Regions from separate parts of the Homo sapiens genome. Here region 1 is linked to region 2. Evidence: fine-mapped expression QTL. A gene starts in region 2. The other region holds a variant in brackets. All regions are shown on one strand. Distances are from middle to middle. Region 1 has its middle 11 kb from the start of SCN2B. Region 2 holds the start of MPZL2 (myelin protein zero like 2).

What was found. PIP is the estimated chance that this variant, and not a neighbour inherited with it, causes the effect. A credible set is the group of variants that fine-mapping cannot tell apart.
Region 1: its variant is the best candidate, but not a certain one, in a credible set for the expression of MPZL2 in blood mononuclear cells (TOPMed, PIP 0.80).

Annotation. Positions count from the first base shown.
Region 1 is chr11:118,185,255-118,189,647 of GRCh38, reverse strand. No RefSeq gene overlaps it. Among named protein-coding and RNA genes, the nearest start is that of SCN2B, 11 kb to the right of the region's middle. The variant T/C (reference allele first, on the strand shown) is at 2,005.
Region 2 is chr11:118,262,314-118,266,706 of GRCh38, reverse strand. It overlaps MPZL2 (myelin protein zero like 2), which reads left to right and starts at 2,410. Exons shown (of 6, transcript NM_005797.4): 1 at 2,410-2,611; 2 at 3,610-3,776; 3 at 4,059-4,269. The coding sequence starts at 2,554. RefSeq lists an enhancer at 2,609-2,658.

The sequences.
Region 1 (4,393 bases), 77 kb after region 2:
CAAAGATAAATAGATGGGATTTAATTAAACTAAAAAGCTTTTGCACAGCAAAAGAAATAATCAGCAGAGTAAACAGACAACCCACAGAGTGGGAGAAAATCTTTGCAATCTGTATATCCAACAAAGGACTATTATAATATCCAGAATCTACAAGGAACTCAAATAAATCAGCAAGAATAAAACAAACAAACCCATAAATTAGTGGGCTAAGGACATGAATAGACAATTCTCAAAAGAAGATATACAAATGGCCAAGAAACATACGAAAAAATGCTCAACATCACTAATTATCAGGAAATGCAAATCAAAACCACTATGCCATACCACCTCACTCCTGCAAGAACAGTCATAATAAAAAAAAATTTTTTTTAATTTTAAATTTTAGATGTTGGCATGGATGTGGTGAAAAGGGAACACTTTTACAAGGTTGGTGGGAATGTCAACTAGTACAACCATGATGGAAAACAGTGTGGAGATTCCTTAAAGAACTAAAAATAGATCTACCATTTGATCCAGCAATCCCACTACTGGGTATTTGCCCAGAGGAAAAGAAGTCATTATATGAAAAAGATAGGCTGGGCATGGTGGCTCACGTCTGTAATCTCAGCATTTTGGGAGGCCAAGGCAGGTGGATCACGAGGTCAGGAGTTCAAGACCAGCCTTGCCAACATGGTGAAACCCTGTCTCTACCAAAAATACAAAAATTAGCTGGGTGTAGTGGCACATGTCTGTAATCCCAGCTGCTTGAGAGGCTGAGGCAGGAGAATTGCTTGAACCTGGGAGATGGAGGTTGTGATCTGAGATCACACCACTGCACTCCAGCCTGGGTGACAGAGCAAGACTCTGTCTTGAAAAAAGAAGAAAAAAGATGCCTCCCCATGCATGTTTATAGCAGCACAATTCGCAATTGCAAAAATATGGAATCAGCCCAATTGCCCATCAATCAATGAGTGGTTAAAGAAAATAAATATGGTATATATATATATATATATACACATCATGGAATACTACTCAGCCATAAAAAGGAATGAAATAATGCCATTTGCAGCAACCTGGATGGAACTGGAGAACATTATTCTAAGTCAAGTAACTCAGGAATGGAAAACCAAACCTCATATGTTTGGGAATGGGAGCTAAGTGGGAGCTAAGCTATGAGGATGCAAAGAAGAAAATAAATATGGTATATATATATACCATGGAATACTACTCAGCCATAAAAAGGAATGAAATAATGCCATTTGCAGCAATCTGGATGGAACTGGAGAACATTATTCTAAGTCAAGTAACTCACGAATGGAAAATCAAACATCGTATGTTCTCACCTATAAGTGGGAGCTAAGCTATGAGGATGCAAAGGCATAAGAATGATACAATAAACTCTGAGGACTCAGAAAGGGTGGGGAGGTAAGGGATAAAAGACTACACACTGGGTACAGTGTACACTGCTCAGGTGATGGGTGCATCAATATCTCAGAAATCACCACTGAAGAACTTACTCATGTAACCAAACACCACCTGTTCCCCAAAAACCTATTGAAAAAAAAATCCTTTGGGGTTGGGTGCAGTGTCTCATGCTTGTAATCCCAGCACTTTGGGAGGCTGAAGGGGAGGATCACTTGAGGCCAGGAGTTCAAGACCAGTCTGGGCAACATGGTGAGACCCTCATCTCAATAAAATAAAGTAAAATAAAATAAAATAAAATAAATAAAATTGATTAGCTAGGTGTGGAGGTGCATGCCTTTGGTCCCAGCTACTCAGGAGGCTAAGGTAGGAAGATCACTCAAGCCCAGGAGTTAGAAGCTGCAGTGAGATATGATTGCGCCACTGCACTCCACTCCAGCCTGGGCAACAGGCTAAGATCCTGTCTCAAAATAAGAAAGAGGAAAGGAAGGGAAAGGGAAGAGGAAGGAAAAGAAGAAACTAAAGAATATCCTTTGGTTCTGAACAACTTCCAGCCTCTGCGGACCAGCCTGGGTTCAGCTCTGGTCTCCTTTCCTTGACTGC[T/C]ACAGACTCTTTCTTATTCTCTGCAACCCTTTCTTCATATTTAGCCATGCAGGGCCAGATAAAGAGGAGGTCTTTTCTGTTTTTCTGATTTCTGATCCAGTCTTAAATGGGGCTACATTTTTTTTTTCCTTTTTTGAGACGGAGTCTCGCTCTGTCACCCAGGCTGGAGTGCAATGGTGCTATTACGGCTCACTGCAACCTCTGCCTCCCAGGTTCAAGTGATTCTCTTGTCTCAGCCTCCCAAGTATTACAGGCGATTACAGGGATTACAGGCACACACTGCCATGCCCGGCTAATTTTTTGTATTTTTAGTAGAGACGGGGTTTCACCATGCTTCCCAGGCTGGTCTTGAACTCCCAAGCTCAGGCAATCCACCTGCCTCGGCCTCCCAAAGTGCTAGGATTACAGGTATGAACCACTGCGGCTGGTGGGGCTACATTTTTAATGATTTCCCCCAACTCTCCAAACATTAGGATCCTCTCATAACACACAGGTTATGTTCTAGTTTAGACATGGATAAGCATCATTAAATTCTTCCTTCCTATCTGCCAGCTCTTGATGAGGAGTTATGTCAGGGTTTTCCATATGGGTATTGAAGGCAGTATCCTGTCCCAGACATACCAGGGACACATATTGGTGAGACAAGTAGAGGGGGAAGAGGACTTTATTATATCTGGAGTGTTCATGGAGAGGAAGTGGTTTCATTTCTGGGCTATTAAGTAACTTCTCTCCTGGAATAAGGGACCCTTTTCCACTTCCTCAAATATTGTGTGCATTGGAAGATGGCCTTCAGGATACAGAGTTAGGTGGGTGGATGGTGATTTTACATCTGTTGCTCAGGGTCTAAGAAAATAATTAGGGTAAGAGCAGGAGGATGGGCTGGACAGGTTAGCCACATGATCCTCAGCAGGCACTTGGACCGTGAAAGTGTAGGTGTGCCCAAATTCAAATTTGATTCATTCAGAGATTGGCTTCCATTCTGGGTTCGGCAGTTGTGACTGAGGGGGAGGAAGAGGAAGCCCACATCTCTGCTCCAAGTCTTCTTCCCTACAAACCTTCTTATCCACAGGCATGGAGCCAAGGTTGAGGGTGGAAGTCCACAGTTGTCAAACACGAATTTCGCCTAAAGCCGAAGCAGCCCTACAGGGGACTGGGAAAGAGACCGGCTTCTCTCTCAGCCCTTCTGCTAGAGGTGGTTTGTCCATTACACCCAGGAACATGAAGGGAAATTGTGTAGGGAATGGGCTTCAAGATCAAATAGTCCTGGTTCAAATCCTGGCTGCCTCTTCCTCTTCAATATTGCAAAGTGTGTTTAAATCCTTTGAGGCTGTTTTCCTTATATGTAAAATGGAGACTCACAGAAGTTTGTTAGTTTGTTTGTTTTGCAAGGACTGAATGAGGTAGTATAGGGGATAGTGCCTGGCCTGAGCCCTCCCTTTCCTTCAAATGTGTTTTTCCAGGTAGATGTATCTTCTTAACGTCACTCAGAAATGAAGAACCCACTCAGAAATAGGTTATTTTATCTTCTATTTAATGCTAGTCAATCTTTGCTATTCAATCTTAATAACACAATTAACAATAGGGATGGACAATATCTTCTGGTGATTCAGTCCCCATCTCTTAATTTTGATTTCTACGGACAAAAAGCGCTTTACCAAAATCCGTAAATCCCTCTTCCTATCCGAAGAAAGACTGAGTTAGGAAGCTGAGCTTAGGCCAAGGCTTTGTATAGCTCTGAGGAGACAGATTTTGAAGGACTGGAAAGCTACTGAAGATCCCTGTAGTAGAGCCTTTGGAAAGCAGTTTTGTTACCTGAATTTGCAGTATTTTAGATCCCTGGAACATCAGATGCTCTCATATTTTAAGGTTTGCAGAAGTACACAGGCCTTTGCCAACAGAAAGCAGCCCCAAGGCTGGAGGGAGCGGAGCTACTCATGAATAATGGAGAACCTAGCAGCTTCAGAATTTGGCTATCGCAACTGAAAACAGTTCTGCTTGTCCACTGGGGATCGGTAGAAGATGAGCTGAGTCTCCTTCAAAAGGCTGCAGCCTTTTGTCGGCCAGGCGTGGTGGCTCACGCCTGTAATCCCAGCATTTTGGGAGGCCAAGTTGGGCGGATCACCTGAGGTTGGGAGTTTGAGACCAGCCTGACCAACATGGAGAAACCCTGTCTCTACTAAAAATACAAAATTAGCTGGGTGTGGTGGCGCATGCCTGTAATCCCAGCTACTCAGGAGGCTGAGGCAGAAGAATTGCTTTAACTCGGAAGGTGGAGGTTGCGGTGAGCCGAGATTGCGCCATTGCACTCCAGTCTGGGCAACAAGAGCGAAACTCAGTCACACACACACACACACACAAAAGGCTGCAGCCTTCTACCAGCCCTTTAGTT
Region 2 (4,393 bases):
TGAGAAAGACAACTTTTACAAATATTGATACAGGCCCACTGTCCCTTCTGTCTCCTGAGCCCCCAGTGAGTCTCCTGCTGGCTAAGGTCTAGATACTCACTAGAAATCATTTTTTGGGAAATGTGTAGATGGATGGGACAGATGAGATTCTTTCAAAAACTATTGGTATGTCACAATTTTAAATGACAATCAGGATCTTTCTCTGGAAAAGTTTAGAAAGAAAATGGTGTCTCTGAAAACTTTACTTTTCTTCTTTTCAATTTCCAGAACTCCTCTTCCTTTCCTTCCATTTGCCTGGGCACAAACATAACTTAGGCCTTATGTAGATGCCTGCAGTTTTGGTCTAAGTCCTGCTGACTGGTGTCCAGAAAACTGTGAGGGGCAAACATCCTTTTTATTTAGCATTTTCTCTTCTTAACCTTCTACCCTTGGCCTCTTCCTTGCCCAGTGAGGTGAAGTGGTTGACTGTGGAGCCACTCCTGCTAACTGGAAGGAACTGGGCGTTGCCAGGCACTAAGCCAGGAACTTGAACTCAGCTGAGAAGTGGGATCTGGATAACTCCTGCCCCTCAGAGCAAGGCTGGCAACCAGCTCATGGGTGTTTGGCTACCTGGGGGAGGGATTTCTGCTCCTGACAACAGGCAGTTTGTTCAGTTCTTCCTGCCCTGATTCTTCTCCTGTTGCTTTTCACTGCATCCCTGAGCTCTTTGGTAACTCTACCTCTCACCAGTTTTTGCAATTTGCTGTAGACTTCAAAATCCTGGCTCTACCTCTCCTTCCTCTGTAGCTGTATTTCCCTGCAAAGTTGGAAGCCAACCAAGATCAAGTTTCCTTAACTCTTTTTCTTTCAGGGTCCTGGAGCTGAACTCTTCTGACCTACATACCAGAAAGGCTGTATCTTATCCTTCCTCACCAACATCTGAAAGGTTCCCCCAGCAGACTGATTTTAGGTCCCTTTCTGAACTAGAATCTGACAAAGACGCCACACAGTTTTCAGAAACTCTCACCATGCAACAGATTTTCACTAGCACACAGCTGGTCTGCATTTGGGGCCACCTCTGCTTTCTGAGTTCCAACACAATGGATTTTTGTGGTTGTCTACCTGTTTTTGCTCCATGCCCATGTCATCTTTCTCCTGTTGCTTTCTGTTTTCTGCACTTCTGCATTCTCCTCTCTTTTGGTAGAATTTTCTCTTTTCTTCCCTCTTTATGATGTTTTATTTTTTTCTACTCAGCCTGCCGCCTTCTCTTGTTCCTGCCACCCTTTCTGCTCTGGATTCAGCTAGAAGATTTTATGAGTGACTGAAGAGTTTCTAGACTGCTAATCCAGGGATAAACGCAATCTGTCTTTTTTCAGGGTTAGATTCCCAGCCCAGCCTACTTCTTAACTGCATGTGTAATCTTCATCCCCCTCCTACCGATGTTTCTGTGCCGCTTCATTAATCTGTAAAGATGACCCACCCTCTTTCCAGACAAGGAGGCATCTTTTCTCGTTTAGATTCCTCAGCTCTTTAGACTTCTCAGTCATTTAGCTATTCAAAAAATGACAGATGAAATCCGAGGCACAACAAAGTTATCATGAAAACCTTTTCCTTGAGAGCCCCATGTCTGATTGTTCATATTAGCTGTTATTTGGTGGAAAGAACGCTAGATTTTTAAGAAAAGTTCTGGTTTTGCCACATGGTAGCTGTGCAACCTTGGGCAAATCATTTACCTTCCTCGGGTTCTTAGCGTCCTCACTGGTAGAATGGGAATGCTTCACAAGGGCGTTAATGGAGATGAAACAATCAGCAGGAGAGCACTTTGTAGATTGCACTCGGATGGCAGGGTGAATGAGCAGGGATGGTGTCCTCATTTGTTTTTAAAGTCTTCAAAGGTAAAGGATTGTTAAGCATGGAGATTTGATTTGTTGTTTCTGCCAGGTCTCCTGGAAAGCTACAAACTAGAAGAAGTGCAGGAATCCTTGTGGTAACAGGGGTATCAGCTTTTTGTCCACAGAGGGTCCTAAGGAATTCCGACTCCCGTTTTGAAATTGTATCGAATCCAGTCCCAAGTGAATGTGGCCCTGGGGTGGTGCTTTGAGAAGTGGAATCACTGCAGGACAGTTTCAACATTCACTTCCCAGGCAAGCCTAAAGCCTGTTTTAAAAGGGCGTGTGGGGGCCAAACCCATAACAGTCTGGGACATTTCAGACTGGCACCACCTCCTCTGGCTGTTTCCGAGGCCATCTAGAGGCCAGAGCCCAGTCAGATTAACTGAAAGTAAAGAGAGGACTGCGGGAGTTTGGGACCTTTGTGCAGACGTGCTCATGCTCGTTCGTGTAGAGGGCGGGAGAGAGGAAAGGAAGGAGGGCATTGGGAGCTGAGGCCCCACCTTTCATTTCAGAAAAGTGCACAGGCAGAGCGGGCTGAGTCACAGGCACAGGTGAGGAACTCAACTCAAACTCCTCTCTCTGGGAAAACGCGGTGCTTGCTCCTCCCGGAGTGGCCTTGGCAGGGTGTTGGAGCCCTCGGTCTGCCCCGTCCGGTCTCTGGGGCCAAGGCTGGGTTTCCCTCATGTATGGCAAGAGCTCTACTCGTGCGGTGCTTCTTCTCCTTGGCATACAGCTCACAGGTAAGAGCCGGCGGGCTTCTCTCAGAGTTTCCTCCTTCACTGCTCACTCTATAAAGTTAGCTAATTGTCTTAGAAGTTGCAAGACTTTTGTTTGGGAGCCTGAGCCACAGATACAGTTTGTTTTACTTTGGGTTTTACTGAAACCAAAGTTGGTGGACTGTTTTTGGAGAACTGCTCTCGGACAAACAGGTTTAGGTGTGTTCAGCTGCCAGTGATTCAGGCACAGAGAGGGCTTTCTAATCTCAGGTTACATGCCATTTTTTTGTGTGTGGCTGTTCTCAACCTCCCACTGCTGGCAGGACTTGGCATTTGGATTTCTGTGTGTGGGTCTTGTCTGTGACTCTCAGCAACACCAGGAAAGTGGAGATTGTTAGAGAGAGACCTACTGTGATTTTGAAAGTGCCCCAACACACACATTCTAAATGTAAATATCAAGTTTAAAAAAATGCCACGTGGTACAAAGGTTCTAGGGGTGCAGGCAAACATAAGCTGTCTGGAGTTGATTAATTCAGTTTCTGCAATAGACTAGTAACAGTATGAAATCCACCTAAGGACCCATCTGGAAAACTTACCTGCTAGGAGACCACTTTACATACAACACATAATGCTTAACCTTAATACATAATGTAATGTCTAATCAATGTTATGATTCATTTTAATTTTTTGTTTATGCTTTCAATTCTATTTGCGGATGTTTGTAGTTTGTTATAACAGTTTTGAAGTCAGTACCACGAGGCGAGGCTTTAATGCTGTGGAGAAAGTAAAAGCACTGCGAAGGCTTGCTGTGTGGTAGTTTAGTTGTCACATGGAATGGGAGGGTCCAGGCTGCATACAGGTAGGAGTATGTAGATTCTGGGTGAAGTAAGTTTGGGAGATGGGGCATCTCAGTTTCACTTTACTTTAAGTCCTACTCAGATATTTATTTTGGAAGTGTCAGCAGAAGTTCTCACAATACTACATCCCCTGTTAACCCTTCTTTTTCTTCTTTTTCATTGCAGCTCTTTGGCCTATAGCAGCTGTGGAAATTTATACCTCCCGGGTGCTGGAGGCTGTTAATGGGACAGATGCTCGGTTAAAATGCACTTTCTCCAGCTTTGCCCCTGTGGGTGATGCTCTAACAGTGACCTGGAATTTTCGTCCTCTAGACGGGGGACCTGAGCAGTTTGTAAGTAGATTATCATCATTTTCCAGGGTACTCTTGTTTAGGGAAATAATAAGCCAGTCCATTTCTCCTTTCCCTTCCAGTATTTTTCTTAGCAGCAAGCACAAGGTTAAGCTCGGAAACAATTCTTGGGACAGAGACTGAGAGGCCGTTGAAGGGGAAAGCAAGTGACAGAGCTGCAGACAGGACAGTTGGGTTTGCTGGTGTTTCACTTCCGCTCCCACCATCTTGGCCTCCTTGCCTGGGTGCTGAGTAAGAAGACCTTTTGCCATTTCCCCTCTCTAGGTATTCTACTACCACATAGATCCCTTCCAACCCATGAGTGGGCGGTTTAAGGACCGGGTGTCTTGGGATGGGAATCCTGAGCGGTACGATGCCTCCATCCTTCTCTGGAAACTGCAGTTCGACGACAATGGGACATACACCTGCCAGGTGAAGAACCCACCTGATGTTGATGGGGTGATAGGGGAGATCCGGCTCAGCGTCGTGCACACTGGTAGGTTATGCAGGGAACAGTGGTTTTGGAAAGGATGAGAGCTTGTAGAAAAGAAAGGGGCAATCTTTGTTAAGGCTGAGAGAGAGGGACAATCTTTTGTGATGGATAGAGAGAGGGACTAGCC